Homo sapiens: one gene and its partners. The protein of the gene in region 2 purifies or fractionates together with the protein of the main gene of each other region. This does not show direct contact. Each region holds a gene or a part of one and is shown on either strand. Other genes may lie near its edges.

Region 1 (6,282 bases), on a different chromosome or scaffold from region 2:
GCTTAGTATAAGACTATTGAGTGGCCTGAGGAAAAAGTCTCATTGGCTGCTTTCCTCCACCACTTTTTGATAAGCCAGACCTGGTCTATGGCCCAAAGGCCTAAAGACAGAAACTGCTTTAATGTATTACTGTATATGTACCATACGGAACAGTAACAAGGAACCCTGGAACAGGCCCATCTAAAGCTTTCTGCAGCTTCACTTCTGTATGTTTTAAAATGAGCAGACAGAAAAACCTCAGAATTGTGATGCACTGTAATATATTAAAAAGCTATTTCTGAATTTTGTAGCCTCTAGAGGAGAACAAAGCAGCCTGCCAAATTTCTTATTTTGTCAGAAGCACATACTGAGAAATTTAACACACATGTAAATTTTAGGCAGATTTTCCCCCTATGTAATAAACGCAGTTTCTAATGTAAGTAATTTTATAGTAAGCAAAAGTTCATCACAAGGGGGTCTCAATTAACTGTAGATTAGGCTACTCTGCTTGGGGGAAAGGAATTAAATTTAGTGTGACTAGAGATAAAACTAAAATCAATGCCTGACAATTAGAATTGCCCTAAAAAGGAAAAGGTTACTGCAAAAGGCAGAGATTCAGCAAAGACAATAAAACAACAAAGATGTCAGAGAAAGAAGCTAATGCTTTAAGATAGAGAAGTGAACTAATGTTTATCAAATTGGGATCCACAGATAACAACGATGATGATATGTCTTTAACAATCTCTAAATTTCATGAGTTTGTAATGAAAATATTTAAAAATTAATTATGATCTAGATGACAATCTTATAAAAGCCTCCTCTCACACAAATTTATGGGCCATACTTACATCAGCATTTACAACTACACTGACACTAAGTGATCACCTAAAGTGGTAATGTTCAACTTTAAAGCCATGTTTCTTACAACTGGATTCTCTGTTTTCTAGGGACTTCACAACCCCTACAAATATGAAAAAACAAAACAAAAAGCAAAAAGAAATAAAAAATGTAAAAACAGGCCACACAGCTTCTTGATATCCCTCCCAGCTCTGATAATCTATGTAGTCATGTGTACACAGTCATATTGTTAAAAGCCTAATAATAACATTAACCTCATAATAACATTAATGAGTACAACACAAGAAGAGACCTATTATAATAATCATAATATCTAATCAAACCTTCTCAAATTAAGAAGCTACTTAAAGATGCTAAGGTAATTTGTCAAGTTTGCTAACTAGTGATAGAGGAAAATTAAAACCCAGAACCTGTGATCCAGAGTTTTAAAAAAAATCAAAACTTCATATAAAATAACTTATTCACTGACATTCTGTTATAATACAGAATCATTAAAGAGCTCACTTCTCAAATTCTATCTACTTATTTCTTGATTCAGTAGCATTTTCTTCATTCTCAACTATTTATATCTACAACACCAACTCCAAGATACAATGTATATGAAATCTGACTTGAAGATACTTAAAAATAAATAGTTCAAGCTAGAGAAAAATTACAGTGACAATTGGCCCAATGTTGGAAGAAAGCCTATTAGCCAAGGTTATGCTGGAGATTAGCAAAGAAAATATTTCCTAAACAATAATCAAATCAAAATAATTTAATAGCCAAAGATTAAATAATTTATCTCATAACTAAAAACACAGTTGTCATTCTACTTCTTCTATTTATCCCCTATATTATGATCTTTATGTTCTAAAATAACCACATAATACTATTTTATTGACTTACTTCAATTTATTTAATCATTTCTCTGCTGTTGAATAGTGGTGCTGCTACTAATTATAGTTATAAGCTATAAGGAGGACCTTCCAACTTGGAAGACTTTCCTTGTACTGAATTATACTCTTAGATTAATAAATAAGAGATTATTGATTTGAAGAACATTTTTATAAACCTTAATCCATACCCTGTTCTGAAACGAGTAATAATTTTTAATGTTTAAACACAACAAAGAGCATATTAGTTTCATTCAACTTCAACCTTAGCAATAGGTATTATTTTAAACATTTTTGCAATTTAGTTATATAAATACTATGATGTAATTTGCATTTCACTGATGTCTATAATATATAAACATTTCTCTGTTTTTTATATTTCCTGTTAAAATCCTTTATCCAGGAGCACCTTAAGTGTTTTTCTTGTACACTTAAAAGTTCCCTTTCATATATTTAAAAGTTTCTGTATGTATTTTAGACATTAACTAACATTTTTGTAATAACTTCCCTACTTGATTATATATTTCATGGTACGGGAGTTTTACATCTTCATAAATTTGGTGTCATTATTCCATCATCCTAGTATTTCAAAGCTGTGAATATTATTCTTTCATGTAAGATTAAAAATACCATTCTATTTTTTGCCACTTTAAAACAATCCATATGTACCTAGAGCTAATACACACACAGACGTGTTTTAAGCAAGGAGCCGATATCAGTATATGAATGTATTTAAGGAGAAACATGATTTAGCATCTCATTCAACAATTCTCTTCCGTAAGTAGTATTTCATCCTTCCCTGTATAGTAAGTAATTTGAATATGCTTAAGCTGAAGATGGAACTCTCTAATTTTTTACAGCAAAGGAAGGGGTCACAGGACAATACTTAGGGAACAAACAGGCCAGCATTATCTCAATCTCATTATTGAGAAATAATGGTATCTACCTCGCAAAACATGGCAAGAATTTGAAAATAATATCTTCAGTAATTTGAACTATGAAAATGAAAATGTTTAAATTGTATTAGAGTAAATCTGACTGTGAAACATATTACATAAAGGAGATAGCTGTGCATTTATTAAGTGATCATTTCATCCAAATAAGTATTTTAAGCTTTTGAATGTTGTGTGGGAATCACCTGCAAAAAATATGGAAGTTTCAAAATATGGGCAGAAGGATAAACACCAGCTTCTGGATAGTGGCTGCTTTTGGAGAGATAAGGGAAAGGGCTCATATTTACATATAGGGTGGGTTTCAACAGTATCTACAACATTTTCTTTCTTAAGAAAGATAAAACTGAAACCAACATGGCAAAATATAAACATTAAATCTGGGAAGGGGTATATGGGTTCTGTTATATCTGCACTATTTCTACATGCTTTAAATAGTTTATTATTAAAAATGCTGAAGAGTTGTAGATTCTCACAATGCTTATTTATAAACTGCAAAATATTGGAAAAACCCATTACAGATACATATACACATATGTACATACCTGATAAAGTACAATGCTATACGCACAGATATCCGTTTCACAATCTGTCAGCATACTGAGTTTGTAGGGCTTAAGTATTTGGAAATTACCCATGAGAACTTACCCCTTTCTGCAACCGTTTCCTTAAGAAATCTGAACCTCCAGGCTTTTGTCCCAGATGAGGATATCTTGCTTTTAATTTTGCTTCTTCTGCTTTCTCTGGACTAGTCACTTTATCTTCCATTTCCTAAAATAATTTCAAATAAATTACTTCTCTATTACAACTCAGTTATTTAAAATAATTCACCTTTAAAAATCTGGATTCTGAATTCTAGTTGTTAAATGCCAAGTACCACAGCATCTGACTAAGAAATCAAACCCAGAAGCCTTTAAAACATCTCTATCTTGTTTTTCAAAAGATCCATGTGATAGCTCTATTATAGCTGTGATGCATGTGTAACACCCCACACACTGGATAAAAATATCAAGATAGCTCAGCTCTGAAGTCTTGCTTGCCATTACTTTTCCAGTCATGTATAATACATTTATAGTTAGTCACCTTCTATGGAACTCTTCAGTTCTTTGCCTATATTTAGAGAATCATCCTAATACTGTTAAAATATACAGAATTTTTTCTATTTATCTAAAATTATGTATGATTTGAAGTTAGATTCTTTACTAGAAATTAACAGCAGCCTACTTATCAGTACATTTTTCTTGAATACAGATGATCCTGATATTTGTTTTTTTATAATAAATTTTTAATATTTTTATTATTTTAAATAATAGAGATGGGGTCTTGCTATATTGCCTAGGCTGGTCTTGAACTCCTGGGCTCAAACAATCCTGCCTCGACCTCCCAAAGTCATAGGATTACAGGCATGACCCACCATGCCTGGCCCATCCTGTTATTTTTAAAGAAGAGAAACATCATTTTTGTCAATCCTCACATCTATGTATATCATTGCCTAACTCTCCCCCATGTTTAAAATGACAAACTCTGTTCATGTCAAACATCCTATTCTTTAATATATCAAAAACCTGTTTCCTGACAGAACTATCAATTCTTCCATCTATTCACTTTGAACAACAGTCTTGATTTAGTCTGCTTTCTTTCAAAGTGCTATATTTAATAGGGAAGGAGTGTTTATTACTTCATGGCAAGTACTGCAGAAGAATTAATCAAGAAAAACAGACTGGGCACGGTGGCTCACTCCTGTAATCCCAACACTTTGGGAGCTGTGGGCGGATTGCTTGAAGCTAGTAGTTCGAGACCAGCCTGGGCAATATGGACAAAACCCAACCTTTGTAAAAAAGTTTAAAAATTAGCCGGGCATGATGGTACATGTCTGTGGTTCCAGCTACTCAAAAGGCTGAGGCAAAATGACTGCTTAAGCATGGAAGGTTGAGGCTGCAGTGAGTCATGATCACACCACTGCACTCTAGCCTGGGTGCATACCCAGGTCTAGCGAGAACTTGTCTCAAAACAAAACAGAAAAAAAAAAAAAAAGAAAGAAAAAGAGAAAGAGAAAAAGCTGTACTGAGATAGATAAACCGGGCAGCTGGCAAGGCACATTTTCTAAGTAATGGACTCATTTCTGCACATTAAATCAGCAAAATCACATACCTCTGCCTATCTTGAGCCTTCCAGGTTACTTAGGAATAGTCAAAGCAGGAATGTTAAATCCATAAATGTCAAACCTATGTTCTTATATAGCAAGCAAACCATTTATCTATCTAAGCACTGAAAGAAAAAAAAACTTCATAAAATTTTGGCATATATTTCACTCAAAATTATATTCATACATTAAAAAAAAAAAAAAAAGATGAAGATCCTGTTTCCCTTCCCTTTGTACCCACGGGGGGGAAAAAATTACAGGTCAGGCCATATTGCCCAAACTGGTCTTGAACTCCTGGCCTCAAAGCTATCCTCTCACCTCAGCCTCCCAATGTGCTGGGATTATAGGCATGCACCACCACATCCAGCTCTCATACATGTTTTATAATCAGCTTCATTCACTTTATATATTATCAGTATTTCATCCTGAACTGCTTCTTCATTTGTTGTTAGATCTTCTCATTTTCAGTCTCGGAGAATTTTGAGAAAAAAGCTGCTTCTGTCAAATACTGTTTTCTGTGGAGCCTCTTTTTATGTTGCAGATTCATCCATTTATGTTATCTCTTTACAGTGGCCACGTCATTCACTCACTTGACATGCACGACATTCAATTATGTGCACTTAGCCAGAAATAGAGAATTTAAATAGTGGTGAGTCTACCAGTCATTCCATTCAAGAAGGGTATGCTCCAGAGAGGTAAGTGTGAGGTATGTGATGCAAACCTGCCATTCCCACGTTAGTCTCTCGTTGGGTATCTTGCAGAGCATAAGTACATCAACATGCTGTTTATCATTGCAGTGTTTAAAATCTCAGCCCGTACAATACAAGCCTATTACCTTAGCTAGCACTCAACTTAAGAATCACCCTAGCCATCTAGCCATCTGTTCAAACGCTGGACATAAAAGTGACTACCTGCTCTACTGAGAATTGATGGGGCAGTCTCCAATATGATTATGCCTTCTCTAGAATTTTGTCAAGGGTGATTTTAGCTATATGTGATTTTTTTCCCTTACTAACATTAGAACCTAACCCCATGTAAGATATGACTATACCATATTCATCACCAAAGCCAGAGAAATAAACATAAATGTAAGATTACCAAGTTTAATGTAGGAAGGCGGGCTGAGTCACTGCACAGCTTCGATGTGGCTCAGCCCTCACTGCAGATATCTACTGCAGCCCAAGGGTGTTCTCAGTGCTGCAGTTTAGAAGTGGATGTGGGAGGAGAGGCCTACTCTTGGGTTTCCCTGCACAGCTGGCTTCAAATAATTTTGGCTGAAAAGGATCCCAAGCTAATTGTCACCCTTTAGTCCCTGCACCTTCAAATTAAGGGTGTTACTGGAGTCCTACATTTCCAATAAAAATTCAGCTTTCTTGAGCCTAGGAAGTGAGAGCTCTCCACTTCTTCCTTTGATTTGAAATAGTTCTCCAAGTCTAATAGTTCCCCGAATTCCTTAAAAATTTTTAAAGGAAAATTG
Region 2 (6,282 bases):
ATGTAGGATTTATTCTAGTTCCAACACAGTTGTTCTATGTTTTCCCCTAAAAAAGACTTCATGTCAGATAAAGTTTTTAGATTTTAGATTTTTTTCATGTAATCATAGGGTTAATTGTATTTACACATAATAAAATTGCCTCTCGTTGTTATTTTCCGTAGTATGTTATAACTATTATCTAAGGTAACGGAGTTAGCAGAGGCACATTCCCAATCCCATTAATCCCAATAGAGAAGTATGGTGTTTGCCAAGTTAGAACATCATTTTGACTTGTCTCTTTGGATCAGCCAAACAACAATGTATTTGGGCAATTTTCCAATTTCTTTGAATTCATTACAGTTGGGTAATTTTCTCCCATGTATATTGTAATAGAAAGAATTACAAGATAAAAAGACACAGGGAACTCAATCACACTGATTTATTAAATTACGAAATCCAATGCACTTTTTTGGATCCAAAATTGTTAAACATGCTGGTATGGTACCTTGTTTCTTTTTTTCTGTTGTACAAGTTATGAAATGTCAATTTGGCTTTGCTTCATTTATTAAAATTTATCTCATATGTTTCCTTGAGAGGAATGGTCTTTTTGTTATGTTGTGTTTTTTCATGTTTTTGAGTTTAAAAAGTACAGTATTCCATGATCACGTCTCTGTATCTACTTCACCATCCACAATCCTAATTCCCGAACTCTTTAAATAGGCCTCTTGACGATGCAGCCAGCTCAGTGAGTGGCTGGTCATTTGAAAGTAGCACATTGTGTCTCATTTTAGTATTCTGAATCAGTGCATCATATAAATGCATTTTGAATAATGCATGTCTGCTACTTTAATTACTTGTTTAATTATCTTTAGTTTGTTTCAAAGCCTAGAACAACTGCTGTTGCTTGGATGATTAGAAAATTGCTTCCAGTTGCAGAAATCTATTTCCTGTTGTTTCTTCTGGCAGTGATTGCAGATCGGCCTCCCCCAGTTATTCGACAAGGTCCTGTGAATCAGACTGTAGCCGTGGATGGCACTTTCGTCCTCAGCTGTGTGGCCACAGGCAGTCCAGTGCCCACCATTCTGTGGAGAAAGGATGGAGTCCTCGTTTCAACCCAAGACTCTCGAATCAAACAGTTGGAGAATGGAGTACTGCAGATCCGATATGCTAAGGTAACTTGGAATGGCACCTTGCGTTTCTTGTTTTGTTTCACTTTGTTTCTGCCTCCAACAACTGGCATTGAAATTTCTAACTTTGCAATTAATGAAGTGTTAAATGAAGAGTAGTAATATATTTTTAATTTGATGTTTTATTTTTTTCAGATATTTCATTGTATATGTTTGAGATGATTTAACTCATAATTTAGTCCATGGCAGGTAATTTAAGGTTGTATGGAGGAGAAGAAAGGATTTCTAAGAACCTACCGAGGAAAGTAAATGAGGGTTTGTGAGAGAATAAATATCTTCAAAGTAGTGGTACGAAGCAGTCCTTCCATAAAGCATCTTTTAAGATATTTACCTGTATCATTTTATGTGCAATATATTTAGATAGTTCTTCTATTGTAAGTGTTTGTTTCAGCATTTTGCAATGGCAAAACTATACATGCAAACAAAAGCCATAAAGCAATGTACACACCGAGTGTACAATTCAAATCAGAATGCTCAATGATGGAAAGCCCACAGGTCTGTAGGAACCATTTAAGGATTTACTTTCACAGGGCATCATATCCCATGCCTGCTCTTTCAGGACTTTATTGTTTTGATTTTTCTTCTTTTTTTATGTCAAGATCAGACGAGCTCCTGAGGCATATGAAAGAATAGTCCTGACAGCAATAAACATGAATTTCAGTTGCTTTATCTCCTAGTGTGGGTGGTTCCTTTGGAGTATTGGATCAGCATCACAGTTCACTTTAAGTGCCACAACAGTTAATATGTTGTGCTGCTTTGTGACTGTTGTGACTTGGTTCCTGCAATTGCCAGGGCAAGATGACAACATTCTTTCTTTATCAAATGTTACTTGAAGATAGTTATTAGCTTGAGCAGAAGTAGATGGGTTTATTATCCTGCTGCTGATTTCAAAGTTGAACATGTAACCTATGTTTGCCTTCTGACATTCAGTTTTTAAAAGGGAGCGAGAGTGTTCGTTCCAGCTTGAGTTTGGCTTTGTACTTCTTAAACTGCCTTAAGTTACAAGTTTTAAAACCCGGAAAAGTCAGTAGTTTAAGAAAAAAATTCTATGATGCCTATCCTTTTTCTGTTGATCTCATATATCCATATAGTTAAATATATAAGTAAAATATGAAATAGCAAGAATAGGCATTGGTTAAACTTTATCAGCCTTATTATATAACTTATTAAACATAAAGATATATCTTAGCCATAAATATTAACGCTCTAAATTTGAAGAATTGTATGCCTTACCTTAGGAATTATTGTCCCTGAGACTGATGATAATATATGCTAATGCAATTAAATATTTCTTATTATACCATTAGAACAATCATATAAAATCTTTTTTTCTATATTGATGTAATATTTTCCTTCACATTCAATAAAAATATATTCAACTAAGGGGAAGTTTCTGGTTAGTGAATTTTAATGCAGTTATCCATATTCATGGATCATATACAAACCTGTAATTGCTTTTCCAGCCCAGTGAGTTCTTGATTTTTCCAAATATTTATTTTTTGTCTGCCTTCTCAGCTGGGTGATACTGGTCGGTACACCTGCATTGCATCAACCCCCAGTGGTGAAGCAACATGGAGTGCTTACATTGAAGTTCAAGGTAAAGTAAATGGTGTGTTTCCCTTAAAGTGAAGCTTAAAATGCAGTTGTTTACTTACTGGGATATTGATGAAGTAAATGTCCTCTTCCCTGAGTAGGTGTATGAATATGTTATCTGCATTTATCCGCTTATCTGTGTATGTGTAAACATCTTTTATTTTGGCCTTTTTCCTGCTTTTTAGAATTTGGAGTTCCAGTTCAGCCTCCAAGACCTACTGACCCAAATTTAATCCCTAGTGCCCCATCAAAACCTGAAGTGACAGATGTCAGCAGAAATACAGTCACATTATCGTGGCAACCAAATTTGAATTCAGGAGCAACTCCAACATCTTATATTATAGAAGCCTTCAGGTAGAGTGAAGGAGATGCTTCCTAGTTGTTCTTTTTTGATTCTCCATTAAATACGCATGTTCTAACCTGTGTGTCTATCCTTAGCCATGCATCTGGTAGCAGCTGGCAGACCGTAGCAGAGAATGTGAAAACAGAAACATCTGCCATTAAAGGACTCAAACCTAATGCAATTTACCTTTTCCTTGTGAGGGCAGCTAATGCATATGGAATTAGTGATCCAAGCCAAATATCAGATCCAGTGAAAACACAAGGTAAATATTGATTTACTTAAACCTGTGACACCTACTTATCCTTAGATGTTATAATTGCACTGACAAATCACTTGTGCTACATGCTAGAATTGTACATTTACAGTGTGTTGTTCAAGTTGCCCAAGTTGCTTAATTAATTTTTAATATACAAACACAATGTCTACAAACTTTATTATTTTCTGGACTAAGCATACCAACATAAGATGGATTAACAAAGAGAACTGTTTCTCATAAAATTACAAATATATCAAGACAAAAATATTACGTGAGGAGATGGAAAGTAGAATGATGGTTACCAGAGGCTGGGAAGGGTAGTAGGGTGGCTGTGGGGAGGGTGGGGATGGTTAACGGGTACAAAAAAAAGAATAGTTAGATCTAATGAATAAGATCTAGTATTAGATAGCAACAAGGTGACTGCAGTCAATAATAATTTATTGTACATTTTTAAATAAAGTATAACTGGAATGTTTGTAACACAAACAAAGGATAAATGATTGAGGTGATAGATACCCCATTTACCCTGATGTGATTATTATGCCCTGTATGCCTATATCAAAATACCTCATGTACCCATAAATATATACACCTGTTAGTACCCATAAATTTTAAAAATATGTGAATATTTGTGTATTCTATTCAATTTCCTGAATTTTAAATATGGTAACATGTAGGTGTACAATCTTAATCATATTATAATTGTATTTAAAATTAACCAAATTTTATTTATTTATAAGTTCAGTACTCACAACCTTCTGGATGAATTTTTAGATTACAACCCTAATCAAATAATACTCTCTTGAGATCACATAAATATGAGAGATATCTGGATACCTTTTATTTTTGGAAAAAAATCACGTCATTGTAAATAAAATGTGCTTGTTTTTATATTAGTAAAGAAAGGTAATTCTAGAGGGGAGTGATTCGAACTATAAAATTATTTTCTCAACATACAGAGGGATAGTGTTTCTATCTTAAGGGAACAAAGGAAAAAAGAAAAAAAAATAGACTTGGTTATTTTAATAGAAACAAGTTATACACAAGATGACTGAGACTTAAAGTCCTTTGCTGCTGGTTTGGGAGAGGGGTCTGCCAGCCATGTTGCTGTTTTGTTACTTCAAGTATGTACAGAAACAGTCTTTTTGGAAGCACTTTTTGTTTCAGAATTTGCAGAAAAAGCACACCAAGTTGTAGAACATGCCCACGTTTGTCTCTTGTGTGAATGTAACACACCCATAGCTCATATTTGCTATTATGAATCACCTCTCCAGGAGCTTTACTATACTTGCAGCCTGCCTTAAGGCAGTCTGAGGTTTTTGATATTAGATACACATTTGTAAAGAATGTAGACCCAATGATAGCTATAAAATGAATTTAAACTTTTGTCCCCAGTACAGTGGTCTCCAGCCAGTAGACTCTAACTGAAAGGTTTTGATGACTAGAGCTTAACACCGTTTTGTCCTGTACTCACATGCATGATTCTGGAATATGTAACCTCATTTGTAAGTGAGCAGTAAGTTAGCATTCTGTCTGAACATTCATTTAGTCTTTTTAACATTTCTGTCAATTTGCCTTTGCATATGCATAGCTAGTGGAACAATGTATTAGTCTCTTCTCACGCTGCTAATAAAGAACTTCCCCGAGACTGGGCAGTTTATAAAGGAAAGAGGTTTAATTGACTCACAGTTCAGCATGGCTGGGGAAGCCTCAGAAAACTTACAATCATGGCAGAAGGGGAAAGAAACACGTCCCGGTTCACATGGTGGCAGCAAGAGGTGCCGAGCAAAAGTGAGCAAAGCCCCTTATAAAACCATCGGGTCTCCTGAGAACTCACTCACTATCACGAGAACAGCAGCACGGGGTAACTACTCCATGATTCAGTTACCTCCTACCGAGACCCTCCCGTGACACATGGGGATTAGGAGAACTACAGTTCAAGATGAGATTTGGGTGAGGACACAGCCAAACCACATCACTCTAAGTATAATGAATCCTTGTTAACTGGAATACTGGAAATATAGAGAAACAGGCATACAGTTGTGAAATCAAAGACTTTTTTTTTTTAAATTTCAGCTCCTCAATCCACTAGCTGTGTGACCTTGAGCAAGCTAGTCAGCCCTTCTGAGTTTCCTCACCTATAAAATGGGGCTAAACATACCCATTCCTCGGGATTGGACAAAGAATACATTAACCAATCAATATATAAGTATATAAGATTCAGATTTGTTTTCTGTTTTATCCCATAAAATCTGTTATTGGACTTGTATTTCTTTTAGTGTCAGGACTAAAAGTAAAGGAAGTTCATAAAATTTGTGGATGTCGTAAAACTGAGAAAGACAGCTAGTATGCCAAATAAGAGAATCAGAATTAAATATAACTCAACAGATTGGACTGATGGGAGAGTGCTAACTATTAAAGTTAATAGAGCAAATTAAAAAGTCTGGTACTTGAACTTGGGTTTAAAAAATTAGCTGTAAAAGGATAGACTAAAGACAGCAGGCTTACGGGAAGTATATGTGAGTGTGTCAGGGCTTTCGGAGTGATCTGACTTTAAAATAAAACACCCATCTGAACCGACTGACGGATACAGTTGCCAAGAGAACAAATGTAGTCTTAGCTGGCACTAGAATTATGCCTGGATCAAGTAATTTTTCTCTTTTTACTTAGAACTATTCAGTTCATGAATGGAGTAATGTGTTTGTTCTGGAGACTACATTTTCAGATGGACTTTTAAGAGGAGGACAGTAGGGATAGTCGATGAGGCCGCATGAAAGGCTGAAAATCACATCATATGAAAAGACATTCAAGGATCTAGGTATGATTAGGCCAGAAAATAATAACATCAGAGCAGACATGACATCTTTTCCTTAACATTTTAAGAGACTGCCGTATGGAAGAGTTATGCTTATTCTAGCTCGAGG
Region 3 (6,282 bases), on a different chromosome or scaffold from region 2:
CCATGGGTAGAATATGACGCATCCGGTATGTTGATGATTAACTAAAATAATCAGCATGTTGATGATTAACTGTATGTATTACTTAATAATATTTTGCACTGCTCTAAGTACAATAGATATCACAGCTGAAAAAATATTTGTTGTTATTTTAATAGTGTAGAAACATCTGAACAACTTGTACCACTATGGATGTCTTTAAAAGCAAAGCTTCCCCCAAATTACCCCCACTTTTTAGTGTTGTTTTCCCTAAAGTATAATGGAGCTTCTGTAATTCCCAATCTAAGGAAAGACTGTGTAGAACTTTGCCTGTGGCTCAGAGGAATTGGTTCACTGTTTATTAGCCATCTCCATGCTACAAGCTCCCCTCACTTAAAATGTTCCATGAAAACTTCTGAGAAGGATTTGTAGGTTTTGGAGCAAAATGATTCCGGTAAAGAGCCTTGTGATTCACGAAATGTCTTCTCAGAAAAGGAAGGAAGATGTTTTTCTTTCTCTTCAAGTTAAGAAACCTTGGAGAATGATAATAAAAACCTATTGGGTTTAATTTGATTTCTACAATTAATCCCAAGCCTTTGTTTCTGATAACTCACTCTTCACATACTGTATTTTATAAATTCCTTAGGAAATGTCTTCTTTCAGACAAATAAAAAAGTCGCAATAATTTTTTAAAGGCTGTTCTAGGCCCACTCCGTCTCTGTGTAACATGGAGGAAGGTCCCACCACTGGCTGGAACGTGTAGAGAAGTCATAGTTCCTCATGAACGATAGCAGAAGGGGAAATAGAAGCAGGGCACATATTGATCTATGTTTTCTACTCTTTATCCTGAAAGGTCTGTTTGAGAACATGAAGTTATGTTCCTTGCCAGGAAGCTAAAAAAACCCCATTGCCACACTTCTGACTCCAGGACATCAGAAACTCTGAGGTCATGAGGACCAGGGGAAAGCAGAAGATCCTTCACCTCCAGCGAGGAGTAAGGGTGGAGGAAGAGTGGGTTCTGGCTGCTAGAAAATGGCAAATCAGAAGCCCTGATATTCCCCTACTACCTCAGACCACCACAGAGGTATTCACAGAGAAGAGAGAAGGCAGTAGGGTGCCCATAACTAGGTAACATCCAGTTCTACAAAAGGAGGGAGTAAGAGAAAAAAAAAGAAAGAAAGAAAACCTTTGTGGTCTTCTTCCATTTCATTGGTGTAACCACTCCCACCTGGCTAGTTTCAACCTACAAAAGAGAGAGCAACGAACTCAGAGTTGAGCAAAATTGGCTTTCACAAACCAGTTCAAGCTGACTCAAGCCAGCTCCAGCCTGCTCCAATACACCAGCAACAGGAACTGGCATATATTTCCGTTAAAGTAAGTTATAATGGAGACCAGGCTTGAAGAATCTCTGGGCCAGACAAATCCATTTAGACCTCATAAGTGACCTTAACCTTGCTCAATTTGCAAACATAAGCAAAACTTAACTTCAGCTATTTCTTATAAATCCCTATATTAAAGAAAAATGAAACCAAGTTAACTAATCAGAAGCCTAACTTACATAGAGACTTTCCAGCAGAATCGACCAAATAAAGCAACTCTATAACTGCAACCAATCAAATATTTTCTGTGCTTTACTCCCTTTTTCACCCTATAAAAGCCTTCTCCTTGCATTCCCTCCAAAAAGCCTGCAAACCACAGCTGTCCAATTCCTGAATCGGTATTTGCTCAAATAAATTCTTTTGAGCTTAACCGTGCCTCATTTTACCTTTTGACATCCCAAGACTTTTCTACACTGTCTTATTCTTAACGTAGAAGACAGTTTGGCTGGGGAAGGGCCCAGGATTTGAACTCTCAGCAGCCAATGTCTCTAAACATTTAATGGACCTAAACAGGTATTTTAGCACTAAATCTCTAAATGTAAGTCTCCTTTGGGAAAAATAAAAAATAACAGTAAAAAGTTTCACAGTAATAATACCTACTATATACTGAACTCTTTTTATATACCATCTGTAATGCTAAGCACCTTAGCAGCATCTCATTTAACCCTTACAGCAATCTTAGAACAAAAATAATATTATCCCTCTTTACAGATGAGAAAACAGGCTCAGAGCTCTTTATAGCTAGTGAGTAGCATAACTAGAATTTATACTCTGGTCTATCTAACTCCAGAACCAGTGTTTTAACCCATTAAGCCTCTCTCCACTCCTATGCAACTCCATGCACTAATTTATAATAAACTCTACCCACAAAAGTTCCAGGAGTGCCTATAGTCCTTGATTATTTTCTTCAATTCAATTCAACAGACTTTGAGATCTCAATACTTTCCAAGAGAACTGTGCTAGGCTCTAGGGATACAGAGATGATGAAAACCCAGTAGATACTCACAAGAGGTACATAATAGCATTCATCACATTCTGTATCATGTTATACGACAAACCTTCCCAAGCATCTGCAGAGTTAACAAAATTACTAAAATCCCCTTAAATTCAGTTAAAGAATTTGGATTAGAGGACTAGCATGTAAGTGAACCTATAAAAACAACTATAAATGTTTCACATACTTGGAAAAATAATGACAGGAAAAAAATATCAGTAACATTTCACACATTGTAATGTGGTAATAATAGACATAGTGTTATGAATTGTTACTTGCCAATTCTTGCTTACAGGAAATTTTATAGGTCTACTGTGATTTGCAGTTTCAATAATATATTTGCAAATAGTTTTTACTCCATTTTGGATCATACTAATACTGAAGACAATTATTTTTTTCCTCTCTGGTCCTTCATTCAAATGTATGATGACTTTCTGATTTTATGTCCCAGAAATTACCACTACTTCCCAGGTAGGGGCTGACTTCCATTAGCGTGCAGCTCTGAAGCCACTGTTTCTTGACCTCATCTTCATTTACTTTTCTCAAGGAAGGCTTCTCTATAAAAGCTTCTTCTCTTGCCTGCCATCTACTTCACCTCCTTTTCCTAAAATCAACTCTTACCTCCAATTCCTTGTGTCTTGAATATTCTGTGGCGGAAGAAATTCTCATTCACATATATAGAAACGGGAAGTCCTGAGGTTGCTGAAAGACCTCATCCCACCTTGTTTTAAGCATAATATGATCTTGATACCTGCCAAAGGTCAACTGTTGGTAAAGCCACAAAACCATAGTGCTAAAATCCCCTTTCAAATCCTCATCACGCCTAATCTTAAGCATGTTGGGAGAAAACGTTGCCTTTGCAGAAATGCTTGCTTGATTCTGAAGATTCATGTGGTCTGATGGTGCATCAAGGCAATTAGCATCTTTTTCATTTTTCAAAATTGTTTACTTTAGTGGCACCAATTAGCTAAAAAAGGGTGTGGACTTTAGGGTTCCAGGATTAGTTGTATTATTTCAGTGTAACAAGTAAGTTTTTGGTTATTACTATAAAGTCCAATTAAAATAAATTTGACCATTAAAGGCAGGAAAGTTGAGTTGTGGCAAATTAGAAATCAACTAACATCAAGAATTTCCCACAAGGGATTTCATTGGGAGAATTATTTGTGTCTGGCCTTATGACTGCAGTAAATTCTTTGGAGAAAACAAATGTTTTATTCTTACATTCTTGTAACTCTCACATAACCTACTATATTATTTTCTACAAGATAGACACATGTTTATTAAACCGACATTTAGGTCAGGGAAGCTATCATTATACCTTTCTCTTCGGCAACCTGCAAACTGGGAATCATAAAAATCATAACACATAGGACTCTCAAATCCACTTTCATCTAACAAACCCGACATTTTTAAAAATTATAATACTTCAGTAAAGCACAGTAAGAGAATACATAAAGAATGACAAAGCCACTCTTTTAGATCTCTTGAAGGTGAGATTCAAGCAGAGATCCATGATCTGTCTTAAGTGAAGGAATGAGCCAGGTAACTTTCAGGAGGAAGAAACTTCCAGACAAAGGGAATCCAACTGTCAAGCCCTTTGAGACAAGAGCTCGATTTGATGTGTTCTAGGAATAGCAGGAAGGTCAGCATGGCTGCATGAGCAAGGGGAGTGGCGGGAAATTTGGGAAGCAAATGGGACCAAGGAAAATTGGGTCTCGTAGACCATGGTTAGGACTTTGAATTTTATTTTATGTTTGATGGGAAATGTTAGCAGAGTTTTGACAAAATCTACCTTCAGTTTAGAAAGTTAGTGTTAAGACTTCCCAGTTAATTAGTATGTAAACCATTTTGTTGTATTAAATAGTACTTTATGGGTTTCCAAATAGTAAACGCCTCCCATTCTCATCTCTTTTTCAGTTTTCCAAAAAAGGTATTTCTAATCTTAATAACTTTAAGATTAGGGGAGCTATGTATCAAGAGCTGTTTCTATAACATAAGTAAACATTACAGATTTTTAATTAAAGTAATTATTGTTTAGAATCTAAGGAATCTTTATGGTTAAAAGTAAAAGATCCCTTTTATGCCTTCTTATCTCATCTCAGATAATCTAGATTTCCTTTAAAATTACAAGTGGGATTTCCTTAGTTGATTAAAAAAAAGCCACAATTTTTCTAGCTGAAAATTATTTGTTATTTCAATAGATATGCACACATATATGAAATAAAAGCTTATATTGTAGAAGGCATATACAAATAAAATGACTTATTTTTCCCCTTAGAAAACAAGTTTATTCGGGGATTTTTTTCTCTCCCACTTTCTCCTTGATAATAGTGGAGATGAGCTTTGAACCTGTCTTTCTGAGCTCAACAGCTGGCTTCTTAGCTGGCTTCTTAACAATTATACATTCCTGCTGTGGGCTCTTAGACAAGGAGAACTTCTGGGGCACAAGCTGTTTTTGTCTTGTCCTGTCCTCTTACAAAACTTGAGAAACTCACTTCTCCTCACCACTTTTGGTGCTGATCAGCTCACTTCACATACAAAAGTTGAAACTCCCTAAGTTTTCAATGTTGAATAAAGAAAAATGTGTTTCCCCCTCAACCCCAGAAAATCTCCTGTTTGACTAAATGCGTATGTTTCTTGAGTGTTACAAGCTCCAAGGGTGCTCAAAGGAGGTTGTCCTTTAATATTGCCTTCCTTCTCTGGCAAGACCATACCTTCCTACAATGACCTGGTATCCTTTGCTATCTCTACATTCTTTCCATGTCTAAACTCATCCCTTCTCTTGGCGTTAAATACCATGTATATGCAGACAACTCCTAAATTATTATCTCTTGCCCGAGCCTCTCCTTAAAGGTACATTTCCTGTATTCATCTTCCATCCCCACCTAGATGTCTCATGGATATCGCTAAAGTACCATGTCCAAATAGAACCCTGAAATGTGTCTTTCCTTCTGCCCCTCTCTGAGTGTTCCCATCTCATCAGCACCACCATCCACTGGCTGGCCTAAGGCAGAATACTGAGTATCAACTTTAATTTCTTACTTTCCTTCACTGCCAACCTACAAACCAGGAAATCTTTTAGTTAAAAATTTATCTAAAATTCACCCATTAGTCTAATGCAACCATCATTATCACTCCATAAACTACTGTAACAGCTTCCTTCCAAGATCCAGCTTTCCCTCTGGCATCTCTCAAATTTATTCTCCCATGCTACCAGAGTGGCCTTTTTAAACCCTAATGGTCATATTATTCCTCTCTTAAGATCCTTTACCCGCTTTCCATTGTGTTTTGCATAAAATCTAAATTTTTCACCTTGGCCTACAAGACCTGCCTGATCTGGCCCCTGACAAAGTCTTTACAGTGTTAACCACCATCGTCATTATTGCTATTATCACAATCATCTTGATTCAGAACCATTTCAGCTATTTCACCATTGGTTAATAAATGAACAACTGGAGCCTCATTATCAGTGTTAAAAATTTCTTCAATATCAACTTCTTCCAACTTACTGGTGGACTCTGAAGGTACTTTTTTTTGCGTATGTATGGTCAGACATCTTTTTTTTTTCTCATTTGACATACAGAATCATTCAAAGTCACTTTATTTATAATACTTACTGAACATAGTTGCAGGACAGAGGTTATGCCAGGTATGCACAACTGTCTTTAGTTACTGCATTACAAGCATTGGCAACAGCATATACAACATCCTTTATGCGAAACACCCACACCTATGTTCACTGCTGATAACATACTGTTTACGAAAATGTTTTATATTTACACTGATTGATCTAAGGACACCATTCTCACATGGCTAAATTAATAAAGTCACATTTGGGGAAAAGCACATGGAATAAGTATTACTTTTGATGAGAATTTTAGCTGAAGAATAAGCATAAAAGTTGTCAAGGAATAACAAAATCTTGCAGCCTTC
Region 4 (6,282 bases), on a different chromosome or scaffold from region 2:
GGGAGTGAGGTGGTGTGAATTTATACAGAACAAAAGCAGCACATTAAGAAGGACACCCACAGGTGGAGCACTTAGTCACTCCCACCGGCCAACAGCGCTTGCTTAGGGAGCCGGATGAGGAAAGCTCATTTAAAAATATGGTAACATCTATGTGTGAGATGCTGAGTGATGCTCTCAGATGAAACCCAAAGATGATGACATCCTTGCAGACACCCAGGTGTGTATTTCTTCATACTCTAGAAAATGATCAGTCAATGAAATGGATATTGTCTCTTTTCTTATCGCTTGTAAATGTCAGTTTGGGGAACGAAAAAAATGCCACTTTATGGTGTGAAGTGCCTGTCTACAATAGTCCTTGCAGAGCGGCTCAGTGAGTCCATGGCATTAAAGATATGACAGTTACTATGTATACAGTCAGTGAGGAAGGCAGCACAGCAGTATCTCCGAGAGGTGGGGCCCCACCAACACTCACACCACACCCCCTGCACGCTGCATATTCATTGGCAGGTGAGGGTGCTTTTGTTTTGTGAACAATGTCTTCTGGTCTTTAGTACGCATTGTGGTTTTCCTTTTTTTTTTTTTTTTTTTTTTTTTTTTTTTTTTTTGAGACTGAGTTTTGCTCTTGTTGCTCAGGCTAGAGTGCAGTGGCACAATCTCAGCTTACTGCAACCTCCACCTCCCAAGTTCAAGTGATTCTCCTGCCTCAGCCTCCCGAGCAGCTAGGATTACAGGCACGTGACACCACGCCCGACTAATTTACATATTTTTAGTAGTGATGGGGTTTCACCATGTTGGCCAGGCTGGTCTCGAACTCCTGACCTCGGGTGATCCACCCACCTCGGCCTCCCAAAGTGCTGGGATTACAGGTGTAAGCCACCACGCCCGGCCATGCATTGTGGTTTTCTTAATGCCCAGCTTTGTATGAAGTCCTCTAAAGTCCCCTTTGAGGAGTCGTCGAATTACATTTCCATTTTCTTTCATTAGGAAGCTATGTCTGGCCTGAAAAATAAAAACAATTTTATGGTTTCTCATAAAGGTGTAATTTTGCTTCACTCTTATTCACTTATTTTCACGATGGAGAGAATGAAATTGTTTCCCCACAGGAATCATAGTCCATTTTTTGCCTTTCATGTTAGTGATTTTTCCCCCTCATAGCTCCCTAAGAAAAACTAAAGCAATTTGAAAAGAAAAAAATGCAATCTTATAACAAAGTTGGCTTTGTCTTGATAAATACAATGATGGATGACCACAACCACTTAAGTCCTTTTGGGCAAATGAATAATTCTCTGACTATATCTGAGAAGTGGAAACACATGAATTTACATTCTGGTTCTTCAAATATCTTCTCCCTTTCCCTTCTTACATTGACCTCACTTGCCTGAAATTAATGAAGCAAATCCCCAAGGGCAGAGGCTAGAAGGTTTGTGAGGCTTGAAGCTTATACGAGGTTCCTCTTTAAGAAAAACAATACAAACATATCTTACTTTCACAATTTTTTACAAAAACATATGACCACATGAACATACTGCCCAAGTCCCTCCTGGGCCTTGGCAAGGCCCGTGCAAGAGAGATCCCTGAAGCTTGAACTTTATTGGCTTCACGGTAAGTCCATTTCTGCGGGCAGTGTGTTGTGGCAAATGTCCATCTACACTATGCATACTCGAATTTGCTACTTGTGTATGTAAACACAGGAACGTAGGTAATGCCTATACAGAGAATAAATAGGAATATACAAGTATACATATAAAAACACAAGATTACATATTGAGTTTTCAATACACAAACACACAGATACTTATTTTTTTCTATTTTTGTTGTTTCTAAAGATCATATCCAGGCATGATCCCTCTTCTCCAGACTTTGAATTGTCTACCTGCATTTCAGTGTTCGCTTTAAGGGGGAGGTAATCAATTTAGCACATTATCATTCAATCAGACAAGCTGACTCAAACACCGTTCTCTGAATTGGACTCATGCTGAGCAATCCTCTATTCTAGAAGCCAGGTGTGAGGGGTGGGAGGCAGGAAGCCAGTGTGGGTAGGGAGCCCATTGCCAGTAGACAGAGCATGGCTTGGTTCTTTCCCACCCCCCAAGCAGTTCAGATACTGGTTTGGAGGTCTCCATTGAGGAGGGTCCTCTGGGTCTCCGTGGTCTCATTCAGCCGGGATTTGTCCTGCTTACTGTCACTCCGCTCCCCATCATCTGTGCCGCTCACCTTGACCAAGCAGAGGACATTCTGGAAGCTCTTCTTGAAGTTGTCAGACAAGAAGGCATATAGGATAGGGTTGGCACAGCTGTTAGCATAGGTGAGGACCACCACAAAGTCAAACATGCCTTTAAGGGCTGGGGTGGGGCTGATGGCCATGGAGACGGAAGAAACGTTGAATATGTAGAAGGGAAGCCAGCAGAAGATGAAGACAGCCACCACGATGGACACCATTCGGGTGACCTTCTTCTCAGACTTCTTCCTCTTAGAGGAGCCCACTCGGATTCCAGAGGACTTCACCTTGATGATAATGAACAGGTAGCAAAGACAGATGATGGTGAGGGGTACCAGGAACCCCAGAATGAAAGTGTAGATGATGAACCCTGTGTACCAAGCCCCAGATTCACCTGGCCAGTTGATGGTGCAGCTGCTTCTCCCCCACTGGTTGCTCCGGAGCCCAGCATATATCATGATGGGCAAGATGACCAGCAGAGAGACTCCCCACACAGCCATGGTGATCATCTTGGCCGTCCGGGGTCTCCTCCACTTGGCCGACTTGATGGGGTGGACCACAGCCAGGTATCGGTCGATGCTCATGACTGTCAGGCAGAAGATGCTGGTGAACTGATTGATGCCATCCACAGTCATGACCACCCGGCAAATGGCCTTGCCAAAGGGCCAGTGGACCAGAGCCACCTGCATAGCCAAGAAAGGCAGACCCAGCATGAAGAGCTCATCTGCGATGGCCAGGTTGAGGATGTAAATGTTGGTGATGGTCTTCATCTTGGCATAGCGGAGGATGACATAAATGACAAGTGTGTTGCCACACAACCCAATGATGCAGACCACAAAATAGATGAATGTGAGGACTGCATTGCTTGTCAGGTCATAGTACGGCTCTGTCTGGTTTGAGGTGTTGGTTGACACCACAGAGCCATTGAGGTCAAATGGAATGGATAGCCATGTGTGGCTTCCATTGAGTGGCTCATCCGCCATGTCCATGGCTGCTTTTCAGTCTTAGGCTAGTTCCAGCCAGCCCAGAGATCTTATTCTCACCTTAATGGACCCTGGAGGCCAAGGATCCAGTGTGACATCTGGAAGGAAAAGAGGAAGATTGGCCCGTCGGTCACAGGCTGTTTAAAGTCTCACCAAATTTACACATTTCTGGTTTAGCCTCTCAGACATACTCTTAAATTGAAAAATGTATTATCTTTCCACATCAACATTAAGCTCTAGAGTTCCTCATCAGTGTGCAGACTTTTTGAGTTGTTTTTCCAATAGTAGGGAAGGGTTTGGGTTCAGCCATCATCTGCTGACGCACATGTCGGGGAGGGCTGTGGCTTCAAAAAGCACATACTTTGACCCCTAAGAAGTTGACTGATCTAAACTGCAGAAAGGCAGAGCTTGGAGAAGTTCAGCGCCTGACCTCAGAAGGGTCTGACACTGACATTCCTGGCCTCTTCCCTACCAGGAAATCTATGCTGACTTGCTGACTGCCTTGGAGTCTTTCCATTCTGAAAATGCCATAGTGGAAAAAACCCAGACTCTAGAGGCAGAACAAACCGGGTTCCACTGCTGAGCCCGTGTGACCACATGCCTGGTCCTTAATGGTTCTGACTCTTATTTCTTCACATGGGGGCGTCATGAAGGTTAAATGATGGAATATATGTGAAAATGCCTAGCCTTGCGTTGGGCTCATAATGGGAACCTCGTAAGTTGTTTCCCCCCATGTTTTCCTCTACCATCTCATTATCTCTGATTTATTGAAATCTACCTACGTGGTGAAACAATTTATAGTCTTCAGTATTAAAAATAAAAGTCTGGTTTGCTTTCATTTTTGAAATGTAGGCTTCAGTTTATTTTTTGTTTTTCTTCTATTTTTGTTTTCCAATACCTAATGCTTGACTTCCTCAAGAGCTCTTTCCCAAAGTCCCTAAGGGGATGCTGCTCCCAAGTGCTGTAACACTCCAGAGAATTTGCCTGCCATTTTCTAATTACGGACAAAAACGGGAAGCAGGTGTGGGACACAAGCTCTTTCACAGAAGTAAGCAGAAGGCTTCCAGTACTGATATAATTCATTCACACTCACGAGTCCCTTGATCTCCCCAACTGTCCTAGGTGGTAGGGATAATTACCCCCATTTTAGAGATGTGGAAACTGAGGCTTAAGAGAGTTTAAGGAGCTCACCCCATTCTCTTGCACATAATTGGTGGAGCTGGGATGTGAACACAGGCCACCTGGCCCCAAGTCTTTTGCACGTCTCAAGGCATCCCCTCTGCTCCTCAGTGGCCTAGAGACCGAACGGCTGATAACTGGGCTTTGGTTTGAAGCAACTGACTCCTGTGTTACTTCCTTGCTGAGAAAATAATTGGAGCACTATTGGCTTGGCTTAAGATCTAAAACAATAGTTCATCCCATAATTAAATGATTGATATACAGCCATTCAAAAAATATCACGGGGGTTGGGGGCCTGGAGAGGAGGCTTCTTTGTGCTGACAGCAGGGATGTAGAAATGAACAAACTTGGCCAGTGCCCTCTAGGAGGTGATAATTTAAAAGGGGAGATAGGAAAGGAAGCCAGCTCATATAGGGTGGGCATTGCACGAGAGATAAATGAAGGACTTAAGAATGCCTTCCTTTCCTGGGGGACTCAGAGGAGGCTTCCAAAGAGAAGTGTTTGAGCTGGGTCTTGGGTATATGAAGAGTGAAGCAGGAGGACAGCAAAGAGGCCAATCTAGGAAGAGGCGAGATGTTCAAAGGGTGGTGTGTTCAGCAGAGTGGGACTAATTCACTTGGCTGACACATTTCCCCTGAGCTAGGTCCTTTTCCTGGTGCCTGGGTGTAGATGGAAGATTACTTCTTAATCCTTGGAAAGACTGCAGATCAGTTAAAGGAGACTTGGCCAGCAACAAGTACTTGAGGATCCTTGCTCACCTTTGCTTCTGATTGATTCTGAACTGCCAGGTGCATTGCTCGTTCCTTCTGTGCTCATTTCCCTACCACACAACTGTCTGTGAAGTGAGATCTGGGCTTTGTGGCTGACCATTTTGTGAAGTATTTGAGGCACCTGGAATTTCATGTCTGCATTGCGTAAAAAAGCATAGACTGGCAGCAATTAAAACAGAAGCTGTACAGAAACTGTGGTTAGTATCCCTGGATTAACTTGGGTAGTTTCGTTATCACTTCTAACCATCTGGTCAGTTGGTTTAATTCTACAGAGCCAGAATCCTATTCAAGCTGCCTGCAATCAGAGTGTACCTTATCATGGGGATTTCCAGGGGCCCATCTATATAACATGAATGGTCACACTCCAATGTCTGAGTAACACGGAATCCCCCTGGGTTGGCAGAGCCCCTGTCTAAGAGCTTTTGGGCTAGGAACGATGATGGTGCAGGGAGTATGAGAGAGGGTTGAGTGTTGCTTTCCAGCCCTAACTCGGTCATTTTAACTGGAGTTTGAGTCAACAGGACAGAATTGCTTAATGGTAGCAACAGACAGGGTTCAGAGTCTTGGTGAAGGTGGTGGAGGTGGGAGGCTGGGGAGCCGGCTGAGAGTGGGAAGGCTCCTCTAAGCAAGAAATGAGCTTAAATCATGGGGAGTCTTATTTAACAAAGAAGTCAGCCGCTTAAGGTCTTCCAGAGACTTCTGTTTCATTTTTGTTTCAGAGAAAGAATATTCCAATGCCAGGCAGACAATTCTAGATGAATTGTGGTTAAATTAAATGTACAAGGAAGTTTCGTTTTCTGCATTCTTTGTTTTTCCAGCCCAAGAATTGTTAGATGCTGGAAATGGCTAGTGGTTGGTTTCCTCTGAACCATGTCCAGGCTCTGTAGAGAGGAGGGTGAGAATGGTCTCACGCACCTGCCCCCCCCGCCCCCCTTTTACATAGGGGCTGTGATTACCAGCCCAAGAAATGAGTGTTGGGATGGCGACCCGACATCAGGGGAGGTCCTAAATCCTACTCAGCTTCAGTTTCTCCTCTCCCCATCATGTTTCCCGCATTCACTTCCCACCCCCCGCCTCCCTCAGGGCCTGCAGAACCCGGCTTGGTCTCTGTGCGGCTAGAGCGAGAGCCCCC

What was found.
Region 1: the proteins of ROBO1 (region 2) and ARPP19 fractionate together in Homo sapiens (co-fractionation; one large-scale study listed by BioGRID). This does not show direct contact.
Region 3: the proteins of ROBO1 (region 2) and ANKRD22 purify together in Homo sapiens (co-immunoprecipitation; one large-scale study listed by IntAct). This does not show direct contact.
Region 4: the proteins of ROBO1 (region 2) and SSTR2 purify together in Homo sapiens (co-immunoprecipitation; one large-scale study listed by IntAct). This does not show direct contact.

What each region holds. Positions count from the first base shown.
Region 1 is NC_000015.10:52,553,790-52,560,071, forward strand, and holds part of ARPP19 (cAMP-regulated phosphoprotein 19), read right to left. Parts: intron 3,434-6,282; coding exon 3,311-3,433; intron 1-3,310. UniProt on the Homo sapiens protein: Protein phosphatase inhibitor that specifically inhibits protein phosphatase 2A (PP2A) during mitosis. Inhibition of PP2A is enhanced when ARPP19 is phosphorylated.
Region 2 is NC_000003.12:78,664,965-78,671,246, reverse strand, and holds part of ROBO1 (roundabout homolog 1 isoform a precursor), read left to right. Parts: intron 1-945; coding exon 946-1,151; intron 1,152-2,681; coding exon 2,682-2,763; intron 2,764-2,944; coding exon 2,945-3,113; intron 3,114-3,197; coding exon 3,198-3,364; intron 3,365-6,282. UniProt on the Homo sapiens protein: Receptor for SLIT1 and SLIT2 that mediates cellular responses to molecular guidance cues in cellular migration, including axonal navigation at the ventral midline of the neural tube and projection of axons to different regions during neuronal development.
Region 3 is NC_000010.11:88,840,241-88,846,522, forward strand, and holds part of ANKRD22 (ankyrin repeat domain-containing protein 22), read right to left. Parts: intron 1-6,282.
Region 4 is NC_000017.11:73,166,245-73,172,526, reverse strand, and holds part of SSTR2 (somatostatin receptor type 2), read right to left. Parts: intron 3,300-6,282; 5' UTR 3,208-3,299; coding exon 2,098-3,207; 3' UTR 1-2,097.